Homo sapiens: one gene and its partners. The protein of the gene in region 4 purifies or fractionates together with the protein of the main gene of each other region. This does not show direct contact. Each region holds a gene or a part of one and is shown on either strand. Other genes may lie near its edges.

The links.
Region 1: the proteins of ITPR1 (region 4) and TRPC1 purify together in Homo sapiens (affinity purification with western blotting, with the first as the bait; one study listed by BioGRID). This does not show direct contact.
Region 2: the proteins of ITPR1 (region 4) and UFD1 purify together in Homo sapiens (affinity purification with western blotting, with the first as the bait; one study listed by BioGRID). This does not show direct contact.
Region 3: the proteins of ITPR1 (region 4) and ERLIN1 purify together in Homo sapiens (affinity purification with western blotting, with the first as the bait; 2 studies listed by BioGRID). This does not show direct contact.

Annotation. Positions count from the first base shown.
Region 1 is NC_000003.12:142,804,034-142,806,210, reverse strand, and holds part of TRPC1 (short transient receptor potential channel 1), read right to left. Parts: coding exon 2,033-2,177; intron 1,776-2,032; coding exon 1,581-1,775; intron 204-1,580; coding exon 1-203. UniProt on the Homo sapiens protein: Forms a receptor-activated non-selective calcium permeant cation channel. Forms a heteromeric ion channel with TRPC4 or TRPC5 that has reduced calcium permeability compared to the homomeric TRPC4 or TRPC5 channel.
Region 2 is NC_000022.11:19,462,194-19,465,693, reverse strand, and holds part of UFD1 (ubiquitin recognition factor in ER-associated degradation protein 1), read left to right. Parts: intron 1-419; coding exon 420-492; intron 493-3,500. UniProt on the Homo sapiens protein: Essential component of the ubiquitin-dependent proteolytic pathway which degrades ubiquitin fusion proteins.
Region 3 is NC_000010.11:100,162,030-100,165,529, reverse strand, and holds part of ERLIN1 (erlin-1), read left to right. Parts: intron 1-1,434; coding exon 1,435-1,526; intron 1,527-3,500. UniProt on the Homo sapiens protein: Component of the ERLIN1/ERLIN2 complex which mediates the endoplasmic reticulum-associated degradation (ERAD) of inositol 1,4,5-trisphosphate receptors (IP3Rs).
Region 4 is NC_000003.12:4,496,348-4,499,847, forward strand, and holds part of ITPR1 (inositol 1,4,5-trisphosphate-gated calcium channel ITPR1), read left to right. Parts: intron 1-3,500. UniProt on the Homo sapiens protein: Inositol 1,4,5-trisphosphate-gated calcium channel that, upon inositol 1,4,5-trisphosphate binding, mediates calcium release from the endoplasmic reticulum (ER).

The DNA of each region.
Region 1 (2,177 bases), about 140 Mb from region 4:
TATTTAGAAGTCCGAAAGCCAAGTAAATCCCTTATTTCATTTCGGAATTTTGACAGATCTTGGCGCAGTTCGTTTAGATTTTCCACAGTTGCCTGATCTGTACTTTGCATCTTCTGTCTCATGGAAGTCAAGTAACGATGCACTAGGCAGCACATCACTTTTTGATAGTTTTCATCTCTCTTCTGTTTCAAATTCCTCCATTCCTTCAAAACAACAATATGATACTAAGGATATGCAGAAACGATATTTAAATGAGGTAGAGTTCAAAAATATATTCACAGACACAAACACATCTTTAAATGCTTTATTAGACTATAGTTTTTCTACTACATGGTATAATATTCAACACTTGTTTAAAACAAATATAGCCTGCATATTTGTTTAATGAATTTAATTTTATGCTTATCTTGATTGAAAAAAATTAGTCTTAGGAATCCTTAGTTTATAGCAGGGATTGGCAAACTACAACCCACAAGCCAAATATGGTCCATATCCTGACTTTACAGCCTGTGAGCTAAGAATAGATTTTACAGATGAACATTTATCATCAATTGATAATAACACTAATTTTAAACTCTAGTTAAGTGAAATTTTATCCCCTCCCAAAAGGAACTCCATTCTTTTCACTAGTAGACCTATATTTAAAAAGTTATTACTGTTATTGTTATATTTTGACTTTTATCAATAAAAGTTTTGTGAAAATTTGTTTTCTCTCTTACTGTATCACTGCTTACAATATCTCTGATTTTGTCTCAGCCTGAAAAGTGTAAAGTATTTACTATCTGGACCTTTACAGAAAAAATGTCCCAACCCCTGGTTTATAGTAACATATATTGAATTATTGATGTATTGAATAACTTTCAAGAAGAACCAGAAAAATATGAGCTGATTCTAGTAGTCATTCTTTAGCTACAGTGACAGAATGGGTATTTTGAATATTTCCCATGTTTTAAAACTATGAGATGAAATTTTATATATTGGAGGAATCTGAAAAGTAAAAAAAAAAATCTCAGTACTATCTCCCATTCTTAATAATTATATGTGTGTGTGTGTGTGTGTGTGTGTGTGTGTGTGTGTGTGTATATATATATTTGTTTGTTTGTTTGTTCTGAGGTGGAGTCTCGCTCTGTCACCCAAGCTGGAGTGCAGTAGCATGATCCTGGCTCACTGCAACCTCCACCTCCTGGGTTCAAGCAATTCTCCTGCCTCAGCCTCCTGAGTAGCTGGGACTACAGGCATGTGCCACCACACTCAGCTAGTTTTTGTGTTTTTAGTAGAGATGGGGTTTCACCAGGCTGGTCTCAAACTCCTGACCTCAAGTGATGATGTGCTTGCCTCAGCCTCCCAAAGTGCTGGGATTACAAGCGTGAGCCACCGCACCCAGCCCTCTCACTCTCAATAGTATTTATTGAATCCTTACTTTATGTTGGATGCGATGCCGTACATTAGGGTATATAGCAGTGAAAAAAAGTCAGACAGTCACAGCCCTTAGGGAACCTGCATACTTACGCTTTAAGAAATATCTGAGATTAGGAATTGTTAAAACTTTTATGTTGCCATTCAAGCTTCTAATTTCTTACCTTTAAACTGTTTTGCCGTTTGACCTTGCCTTTTGATGTATGAGAGCAAATCCACTTACTGAGGCTACTAATCATATAGCAGATAGTCTTTGGTGAGGGAATGATGTTGAAAGGTGGAGGTAACGTACATTTGTCATCAAAGTAGCTAAGCCATAATTTTGCTCGAGCAAACTTCCATTCTTTGTCTTCATGATTCTATATAAAAGGCAAATTAAAAAGCAAACTAGAATATTAATACACACACAAATATGGGGGATGTTTCCACACCTTGCAGAAAAATTTTGTTCAACATTTGCAATTATTATACATTACTTACATTTTAAAAATCTATATTTAATTTAAAAATACTATTTTTCAATTCTTATAATCTTATAATCTTTGGCTATCTTATCTATTGTATGCACTTAGTATGGTCTGAGGAGAATATAAAGTTTTTAAAAGAATGAACTTACTGCTATCAACTGAAAGCTTTTATGAAGCATTGCCACCAGCAGTTTGGTAAGCACAATCACAACCACGACATTGTATGTACCAACAATGACAGCTCCCACAAAGGACTGCAGTTCTTCTCCATAGCTAAATCTTGTGACAAAGATT
Region 2 (3,500 bases), on a different chromosome or scaffold from region 4:
CAGTTTGAAAATGTATACACCCATGTAATCAGAACATTTCCATGTCCCCAAAAGGTCCTTTCCTGTCAGTCCCCACCTGATCCCCTGGCCCAGAAACCTCTCAGCTACCTCCCATCCTCATAGATCTGTCTTTCTCAGGGTTCCATGTGGATGGAATCTCACTGCCCTTTTGTGGTTGGTTATTTCCCCTTCCCCCAGCTTGGCATTTGTTACCCCAGCTTGGCATTTCATCCATATTATTGCATATTAGGAGTTCCATCCTTCTTTATTGCCAAGTAGTACTTTATTGTATTAAAAGCTTCGTGTTTCAAGTACCATCATGGTACAGTCTCTACCTACCAGTAATCATCTAACATGGAAACTTGTTTCAGATTAAGGTATCCATCTTGCCATGTTGCCTTGACAGAATGTGTCTGCAGATTAGAAAACGCACTTAGGAACTTTGCCTGTCTGACCACCGGGGATGTGATTGCCATCAACTATAATGAAAAGGTGAGCCCAGTTCATGCAGGTCATTCCTGACAAGAGCCACCTGCAGTGTCCATTCTAATGTTTGAATGGGGCTTCTTTTTAAGCAGCGTATGCCTGGATCTTATCACCTAATTACTGCCTACTGTTTGGTTATTAAGTTTTCCCGGGTTCATATTTAGAGCCCTAATTCATTTGGTAACTCTGTTTTGAGGATAGATTGCATTTACAGGGGAACATTGATAGACTTATTAGTCATACCTCTGTGTACCTTGGTGGCAAGGCTGCTGGTTCTGTCTTGGTTTGAAAGGTCCCCACTGCACCTCTAATCTGAGCTAAGCCCTTTGCAGGGCTGTGGAGACACAATAACAACCCTGCTGGGTCCTTGTCCTTGGGATACCTGCCCCACAGAAGCTGACAGGCCCTTCAGTGGGGCCAAGTGCTGTGTGGCATCTGAGAAGCAAAGCCTGGCTCTGCCTTAGGGCAACACCTCCTAGGCTCACCTCTCCTCCTGGGAGCCCACATCCTCCTCCACCTCCTGTTTTCTTCAGCTTCCGTTTTCACTTAGCAGCTTCTCTAGGCTTGACCTTTCTGACACAAGTCTCTCAGGTCTGAATGCCTCTGTTTTCATCCCTGATTTTATGCTGTTTAGGTGTCTGGATCTAGACAATTTAACTGTAAAGTGAAATGACAGGACTTAGTCCAAAATTCAAGAAAGCATTCACTTTCCTATTACCTATGGGAATATGCCTGCAGGAGGATGTAATAGTTGGCAATCCTGCCATCAGGCTGTCCCACCACAGGCATGGAGCACAGTAATATGGGTGCCCCTGTTCACTGTGACTGTTGACAATTGACCCTCCCACAGAGCTGTTGCCAGGGCTAGCCTTAGTGTTCGGGAGTGACCACAGCCTGGCTTGGCTGGGCTTTCCCTGAAGCTAGCACTTAGCTCCTTCACAGCACTCTCTGGTCCCTTCGGGGACTGGGCCGTCACAGCTGTGTCACAGCTGCCTGTGGTTTAGCCAGTTACTCCCTTGGTGTCAGTGCAGGGATCCAGCTTATTCTCTGGCAGTTTCCTCATATTTGAGGCATCTGACCTTATTTTTCAGTTCCTTGGGTTTCGAATCACACTTTCTTTTTTCCTTTTAATAAACTAAGAAATAATCTTGTTCCCTTTAGCTTTGTGGAGAACATTTTAGGTATCGTTTACCTTAACTGAATACTCTAAGCTTTTATAATTAATTACAGGCAGTTTAATGTTATTGTTTTTAATGTTAAGGTAGTAATACTACATATAACTCCTAAACTGATGATAAAGGATAGTACTGATACTTTGCACTCTAAGGGAGGGTACATTATATAAGAGTGTATGTAAAATTGAAACACAGGTTTGAACTTCCACTTTTAGAAGTAGGGAAAACTAGATCCTCTAATGGGCCCTTCTGATTAATGTACTGTTGTGCTTATAGAGAATTTTAAACACTCTAAGCTGGGTTGCCCTGAGGGCAGATGGCCATATCAGTGCTCTAGTGGGAGATCTGAGTCAGAGATCAGGATTGAACGGGAACCCTTAAAAGCAGTAAAATATACACAGAGGTGGGTGTTGTCATTGTCTCAGGAGAAATAAACAGATCCTCTCTGGAAAAAGCACTCCAGTTTAGTTACGTCTTTGGGATTGCTGTCAATTGAACAAGCAAAGAACACATAATTAAACTACACCAAAGCAGAGACAATAAAAATTAGATCCCTAAGGAAATCAGCATTAGAATTTCTAGATACAAATGTAAAATAATTAGATATAAAATGTTCAAAGATATTTTTTAAAATGGAATTATAATAGCGAGCAACAAAAGGCTATCAAAAATAACCAGAAAGATTTGAAAAACAATGTTAAACAACAGCTATAAAAGAGTTAATGAAAGATGAATCTGAAGAAATAACAGAATTTCACACAGAGGAGCAAGGGGATGGAACATATGAGAGCTTGAGATGTTGAAGACACTGAGAAAGTCAAACATGCCCATTGCAATCCCAGTAGGAAAGAATGGAGGAATTGCAATAATCTGAAGAGATGGTAACTGAAATTGATTTAGAATTGGTGGTCAGCCCATCATGACAGGAAATTTATAATGTATAACAAACAGAATAAGCTACAGGTAGAAAATACCAAATACAGAGAGGTAAGCAGGGAGAAAACACAGTACCTTCAGAAGAACAGCAAGTAGCAGGTCTTTGAATAGCAACAGTTACAGCCAGTATCAAGTAACTATCATCAAAACCTTCCTTAAAGAATAAGGGCAAAGTGAAAATATTTTCAGATGAACCAAATCTGAGAGAGGTTATTTACCAATGGAATTTTAAAAGCATGTACTTTAGGAATAAGCATTATCCTAGAAGGAAAGCAAGAAGGAATAGGGAATAAATAAATTGGCAAATATGAATCCAGGGTAAATGTTGCCATATAAAGCAGTAATAATGTTTAATGTATGAAGCTTAAAAAATGACATCTAAAATGTTGGAAAAGAGTAAGTCTTTAGACTTACTCTCTTTTTTTTTGAGAGAGTCTCTCTTTGTCTCACCCTGGCTGGAGTGCAGTGGCGCGATCTTGGCTCACTGCAGCTACCACCTCCTGGGTTCGAGCAATTCTCCTGTCTCATCTCAGCCACCTGAGTAGCTGGGACTACAGGCATGTGCCACCACTTGCGGCTACTTTTGTATTTTTAGTAGAGACGAGGTTTCACCATGTTGGCCAGGCTGGTCTCGAACTCCTGACCTCAGGTGAGCCATCAGCCTCAGCCTCCCAAAGTGCTGGGATTATAGATGTGAGCCACCGCGCCTGGCCTAGACTTACTCTCTTGAGAGAGTTGTTTAGAATTAAAGTGTTCTCTGTTTACAATTCAATAAAGTTAATAAAAAAGATAGCTGAAGCTGGGTGTGGTAGCTCACACCTGTAATCCCAGCAATTTGGGAGGCTGAGGTGGGTGGATCACTTAAGTCCAGGAGTTTGAGACCAGACTGGGCAACATGGCAAA
Region 3 (3,500 bases), on a different chromosome or scaffold from region 4:
CTGTAGTCCCAGCTACTCGGGAGGCTGAGGCAGGAGAATGGCGTGAACTCAGGAGGCGAAGCTTGCAGTGAGTCGAGATAGTGCCACTGCACTCCAGCCTGGGTGACAGAGTGAGACTCCATCTCAAAAAAAAAAAAAAAAAAAGATTGCTTCTGGTGACGGAAAAATGAATATTGTGTGTTTTCTGCTCTCAAATAAATCATAGTATTCAGACTGTCATTTGATGTCTTTATCAATGTTATCAGAGGAAAGGGGAAACTTTGAGGGGAAGTGTTTTGGGGAAACTATTGGAGTTACTTTTCAGATGATTCTGGATCTTTCTTAATTTTATGGACTATTGGAATTCCAGAATTAAAAGCTACCTTGGGATGATCCAGTATAACCTTGCACCTGATAGTAGTGTTTTCTTATACCATTTCTGCCACGTGGTTACCCAGTAGCTACTTGTACATGCTTAGTAATATGCCAGCCATTTCCATTACAGGTTTAGTACCCCTTATCCGAAATGCTTGGGACCAGAAGTATTTTAAATTTTGGATTTGTAAAGATTCTGGAATATTTGCATAGACATAATGAGATATCTCAGGGATGGGACCCAGGTCTAAATATAAAATTTATTTATGTTCTTCCTTGTTGGTATAGTGGTTAGTTTTTTTTTTTTAAGGTATTTTATTTATGTCCCATATACACCTATAGCCTGAAGGTAACTTTATAAAATATTTTAAATAATTTTGTGCATGAAACAAAGTTTACCTTAAGTGCTTATGTGTGGAATTTTCCACTTGTGTCATAATGTGGGCTCTCAAAAAGTTTCAGATTTTGGAGCATTTTGGATTTCAAATTTTCAGATCAGAAATGCTCAACCTGTATTAGACACTGGAAGCCTTAGAAAATTCTCCTTACTGTAAGCCCCAGTTTACTACCTAATAACTACCACCTAGTTATATCTTCTGTGCAACAAATATGGTCACTGCACATGGGTGCCCACCTGAGGAGGGCAGGGGCTGAAACCCAGCTTCATTCTGCATGTCAAACCATGCACCTGCAGGACTGTAGAAACGGCTGGTGCCGTTTTCTAATTGGCACAGAGCTGCTGTATGGACTAGCTGGAGGTCTAACAGCAAAGGAAGTATTGATATATTCCCTTCCAAATCACAGGCTTTACACAATACAACTAGGAGAAGAAAGCCAAACTAAAATTCAAATGTACTAAATTTTTTTCCTATCTCTGGGTGACTTTGGGCAAATCATTGAATCTTTCAACCTCAGATTTATTATAAGTAAAATAAAGTAACACCTCTCTTAACCTACCTTAATGGGTCCAAAAGCTCATGTTGACAAAACGGTTCTCTGACTCACTGTAGGGTCAGAATTACTGGCTGTGACTGCACATAGGAGAATCATTTCTAATTTTTATAACATTTTGCTTCACAGGGAGGCTGAGAAGACAAAACTCCTTATAGCTGCACAGAAACAAAAGGTTGTGGAAAAAGAAGCTGAGACAGAGAGGAAAAAGGCAGTTATAGGTACTTGGATTTCTCTGAAATGATTGTCTCTAAGTACATTTGTTTGTCCTGTTCTTTGTCAGTCTCATTTTGGGTATCATGGGACTCAGTAAGATTGCATCATAGGTAGTGGGGAATTCTGGAATCTCCACTGTACATTCAGATGTTCTAAAGCCTTTAAAAGTAGGTGAGACCAGTACTTAATGATGTGCTGTGGCTGTCCATCATGTTGTTAGATGCTACTGTTGTCTCTTTCAAGAACAGGGAGAATGGATAGGGTTTATAGGCAGCTTGAGTCTGTGGATAGCATTTTCATTTGTACAGATTAAGAATAGGGAAGTTTTTTGACCAAAGTTTCAGATTGTAGTATGCATCCTTGTTGTTGACATGCACTTAGTTTTACCTGGATAGGTAGTGCCGTTTATGAAAGCATGGCAGGATTGTTTACAGTTCATTTCAGATTACAGTGGCTTCCCTTATACTCCAGGTCACTGTGTATTAGATTGCCCTCTTTGGCCCTCGGTTGATGCTGAAAGTTTAATACATCTTTAATTAAATAATTCAATTATAGAGGAATGTACAGAGAACAATATAATGAAAGCTTAAGATTTTGCCTTATTCCCTTCAGATCTTTTTTTTTTTTTTTAAGAAAAAAATTAAATATCTGTTTGAAGCCTCCTTTGTATGTTCACTGGTCCTACTCTTTGACTTTTCTTCTCAGATTAACTTCTATTCTGAAGTTGATGTATATCCTTTCTGTCCATATTTTTATACTTTTACTGTAAGTGTGTAAGAGTTTATAAAATTGTTTTACCTGTTTGAAACTACAAAAATGTTACCAAACTCTTATTTTACAACTTGCCTTATTTTCACTAACATTGAGTTTTATTCATATTGATACATGTAGATCTAGGGATTTTTTCTTTTTTTGGCATTTTATCCTTATTCTCTGTGAGATGGTAGATCGTTTATGTTTAGCTGCTACATTTTTCGTTCTATGAGCGGGCCTAGTTTTATTGTAATGAATTACCAATGAGGAGTTAGGTAGTTTCTAGTTTTTCCTTATTACAAACACTGCCACAATAACATTCTTATCCAGTGCCTCCTGGATACAGTGTACATGTGCAGGTTTCCATAGAGTAGCATTACTCAGTGTATGGTGTGGGCCAGTGCCCTATCACCAGCTTTTTGTTTCTGAGCCTCAATGAGATGAGTATAGAAATTGAGAATGAGTGTTTAGAAGTTTTTATAGCATTTTAATACAGCAGTTTTATGTCTGTTGAATCAAAAATAAAAAATCAGAGCTTATATATTTATGTTTTTGTTTTTTAATTTCTTTTTTCTAGTACTGTAATTTGTTTTTGTTATAGTTTACAATTTATTGGTTCCTCATAAATTGAAATACACACACAAAAAGGTAAGGTATTTTTCCACAGGTGGTTTGAGAAGCACTGCTCTAGAATAGCTATCTCAAAGTAGAATTGATGGGTCATAGGGTAGCATGTCTTCACATTCAACATATTGACAAATTGCTCTCTCAAGTACTTCTTTGATTTTACCATCTCTTCAACAATATTTGATATCCAGTTTCTATGCTGCCATATTTGAATTCCCATTTCCACACATCCTTCTTGGTCCTTGGAGTTATCAGACTTAAAACTTTATGTCTGTTTAATGGAAGACATGGTATCACATAATTTCAATTTGAATTTCCCTGATTGTTAGTAAAGTTGAATATTGCTTATTGGTCATTCAAGTTTCCTTTTTTGTTGTTGTTATATGAATTGCCTGTTAATGTCCTTAGCCCATTATTTGATTGCTTTTTTGAGTTGATTTGTAAGAGTCCTTTCTGTCTCCTGGATACTGATCCTTTTTCAGATTTATGCATTTCCAACATCTTTCAATTTGTGGCTTGTCTTTGAACTTTACAATGTCTTCGATATACATATATGTGTAGTTTTTGTGTAGACAAATTCATTAGTCTTTTCCTTTATG
Region 4 (3,500 bases):
CACTGAAAGTACAATCTGCTCTTTGAATAATTCAAATCAGAACAGAAAATCCTTTCAAGATATCATTCTTATCAGGCAGGGAAAGTTCTTCATGTTCTAAGTGAATTACTCTGGCTCTTGCCTTGAGACCCATGAAAGTCATTTGGGGTTGACAATGGTATCTATTTAAACCAAGTGATTGTCTTTTGGAGGGAATTGGCATCTTTTCTTTAGGAATGAGAAGTGGAATGGTTGCTTAGAAAAAAAGAGATAGATGAACTCCACAGAAAGATCAAGAGTCTTTTCTTCAAAATATTTTTAAGTGAGGAAGATCAGGGTGTTGGTATTGCGGGGAGGGAGGAGAGTGGGCAGAGAGAAAGATAAAAAAGAAACCTTTAATCCAATGGTGTGCAACCAACTGACTTCCAGAGGGGGGAATATCACATGGCTTTTCAACTCATTTATAAAGATATCATGGAAACTGTCTGATTTCTTCATGAGCAGCTCTTAGAAAACAAACAAAAATAAAACAAACACCAAATATGAACAACAGAAAAAAACAGCCAAAATAAAAGTAGGCCTGGAGTTAGGTTTCTAGGTCAAGCTGTCTTTGGCTACATCTAATTAAGGAGTCTCCACAGGGCCAGTGTCTATCTTGTTTACTATTGGTTTGATTTTTAAAAATAAAACACATTGCATTTGCAGGCTGTCTGTTAACCAGAAGTCCATGCAGTTTTTTTTTTTTCCATTTTTGCTGTTTTAAGTTTGTGCATAGCTCAATTGATGAATGCAATTAAGGCTTGAAGTCGGTGATGTGAATGACATAACTTCTATGATTCCTTACAATTCTCTTGGTTTCTGTGGTTCTGAGATGATTGCTAATGAGAATAAGCCAGATACACCACTGAAACCGTCACCCATTCAACTTTGAGATTTCTAAATTGGATGTAGTTTAAGGCACATGGTGTGGTAAATCTATTTAACAGACTCTAAGACCTGTTCAAGTTGTGTGCGATTCAAATGTTTTATTCTTTATTCAACAAATTTCTTGAGCACCTGCTATGTACTAAGATGTATTCCAGGTGCTCAGGATATAGCAATGAACAAACCATCCCGTTCCCAAGAGGCTTACATCTCAGTTGGTGGGAGGCAGCCAATATAAATAAACAAGTAAGTATTATAGTATTAGAGGTAGTAAAAGCTATGGAGAAAAAGAAAACTGGTTAAAGGGGGAACAGAAAATAACAAGTGGAGAAATTAGATCCCTTGTGCATTGCCGGTGGGAATGTAAAATGGTGAAGCTGCTGTGGAAAACAGCATGGCAGTTACTAAAAAAAATTAAACATAAAATTACTATATGTCCCAGCAATTCCACTTCAAGGTATATACTTTAAAAAATTGAAAGTAGGGACGTGAGCAGATATTTGTACACCTGTGTCAGTAGAAGCATTATCACAGTAGCCAAAAGGTAGAAACAACACAAGTCTACTGATGAATGAACAGATAAAATGTGAAATATACATACAATGGAATATTATTCAGCCTTAAAAAGGGAATTCTGACACATGCTACAATGTGGATGAACCTTGAAAACATGCTAAGTGAAACAAGCCAGAAATAAAAGGACACATATTTTATGATTTTTCTTATAGAGGCATCTAGAGTAGTCAGATCCCTGCAGACAGAAAGTAGAATGGGGATTGCTGGGGGAGATAGAAGACAGGAAGGGGGAGTTAGTGTTTATTGAGGATAGAGTTTCAGTTTGGAAAGATGAAAAAGTTCTGGAAATGGATGGTGGTGATGTCACACAACAGTGTGAATGTACTTAGTGCCACTGAGTTATAACATTTCAAAGTGGTATATTTTATGTTATGTATATTTTACAGTAATTTTAAAAAGCAACAAAACATGATGAGGGGTATTAAGGGAGTACTCAGGTGGGGATTAGATCTTTACTACATGACATCTCAGCACAGATCTGAAGGAGGCAAACGAGTTGACCCTGTAGCTGTCAGGGAAAAAGTGTGTTCCAAATGTCAGAGCAGCAAGTACAGAGGCCCTGAGATAGGAGTGTTTGTGACATGTTGGAGGAAGGAGAAGAAGGCCAGGGGAGAGTGCTAGGAGTTCAGGAGGGAGAGGGAGTCAAGGTCCAGACCTGTAGGGACCAGATTTTGCAGGTCAACAGTGGTTTATCTGAGGACTTGTAAACTCTCACGGAATTCTCAGTGTGGTTTTCAACATCACAAAACTACATTGTCCTTTCTGAAGAGACTCTGGTAAGGTTGGCAGGATCACATACCAGATGGGAACTCGATAGGGGGTAAAACCCAGATTTCTGGACTGTCTGGTTAATGACAGGACTTACCTGGAGTTGTAATTCACTTCAGTAGAAAAGGAAAGTTTGACAAATAGGTGAACGTACAGTTGACTTGGAGAGCAAATTGTAAGAACATAATGATAATCCTGGAGTTTCAACACAAACCTATGTCTTACCGCCACCCTGCGTTGTATCCAGTGTCGTTTTAAGAGATATTTACAAGGAGGACTAATATTCTGCTCTCCAGCATCCTTGAGGAATTAGAAGCTTCACATCAGTGATTCTCCTTAATAAGTGAAGTGGACCCCTGCACATGTGCAAACTTAAAGCAAACCTCAAATTTTGTTACTTATTACATAAGATATACATATTCATGTAGCACACACCTTGGACTCGGCTACTCAGGGGACGGAGGCAGGAGAATTACTTGAGCCCGGGGGTTTGAGGCTGTAATATACTATGATTGCATCTGTGATAGCTACTGTACTCCAGCAAGACCCCATCTCTGTTAAAAAAATTTTTTTAAGGAGAAAAAGATAGCATATTCATTGTAGTGCAACATTAGGAAATAAAGAGGAGCAATGAAACAAAACAAAACAATTCAACTATTAGAGATTAGGGTTTCAGGCTTTTCCTCTAAGTATGCATATGTAAAATTTACGTATATATTTAAATTTCATAAAAAGGGACTAACACAGTATCTCTCATTTGGTAAATTACCTTTTGTACATCTTGAACATCTTTTTAATAAACAGACATCTGTGTCTCATTTTTCTAAATGTGCCTACCCCTTTGATGGCCTTTCATTTTTATTGAGTCTAGGTTTATACTTCCCTGATATATATACATATATAAATAGATATTTGTAAAAAATACATAATATAATAATTTTACACATACACGTATTTAACAGTTTGAATTAGGATCCAAATAAGGTAAATACATTACAAATGGTTGATGTTCACTAATCTCTGTATTTCCTCTACAGATCTTTTTTCCATGCATTTTTTTTGTTGTTATCGAAGAAACTGGGTGATACACGTCTCCACAGTTTAGACTTTGCTGACTGCATCAGTGCAATGTGGTTTAACATGTTTCTGTATCCCCTTGGGGTACCATAATTTGGTAGTTAGATGTAGAGGCTTCATCAAAGTTAGGTTCTTTTCTTTTTTAAATTGAGAAGGGGTCTCACTATGTTGCCTCG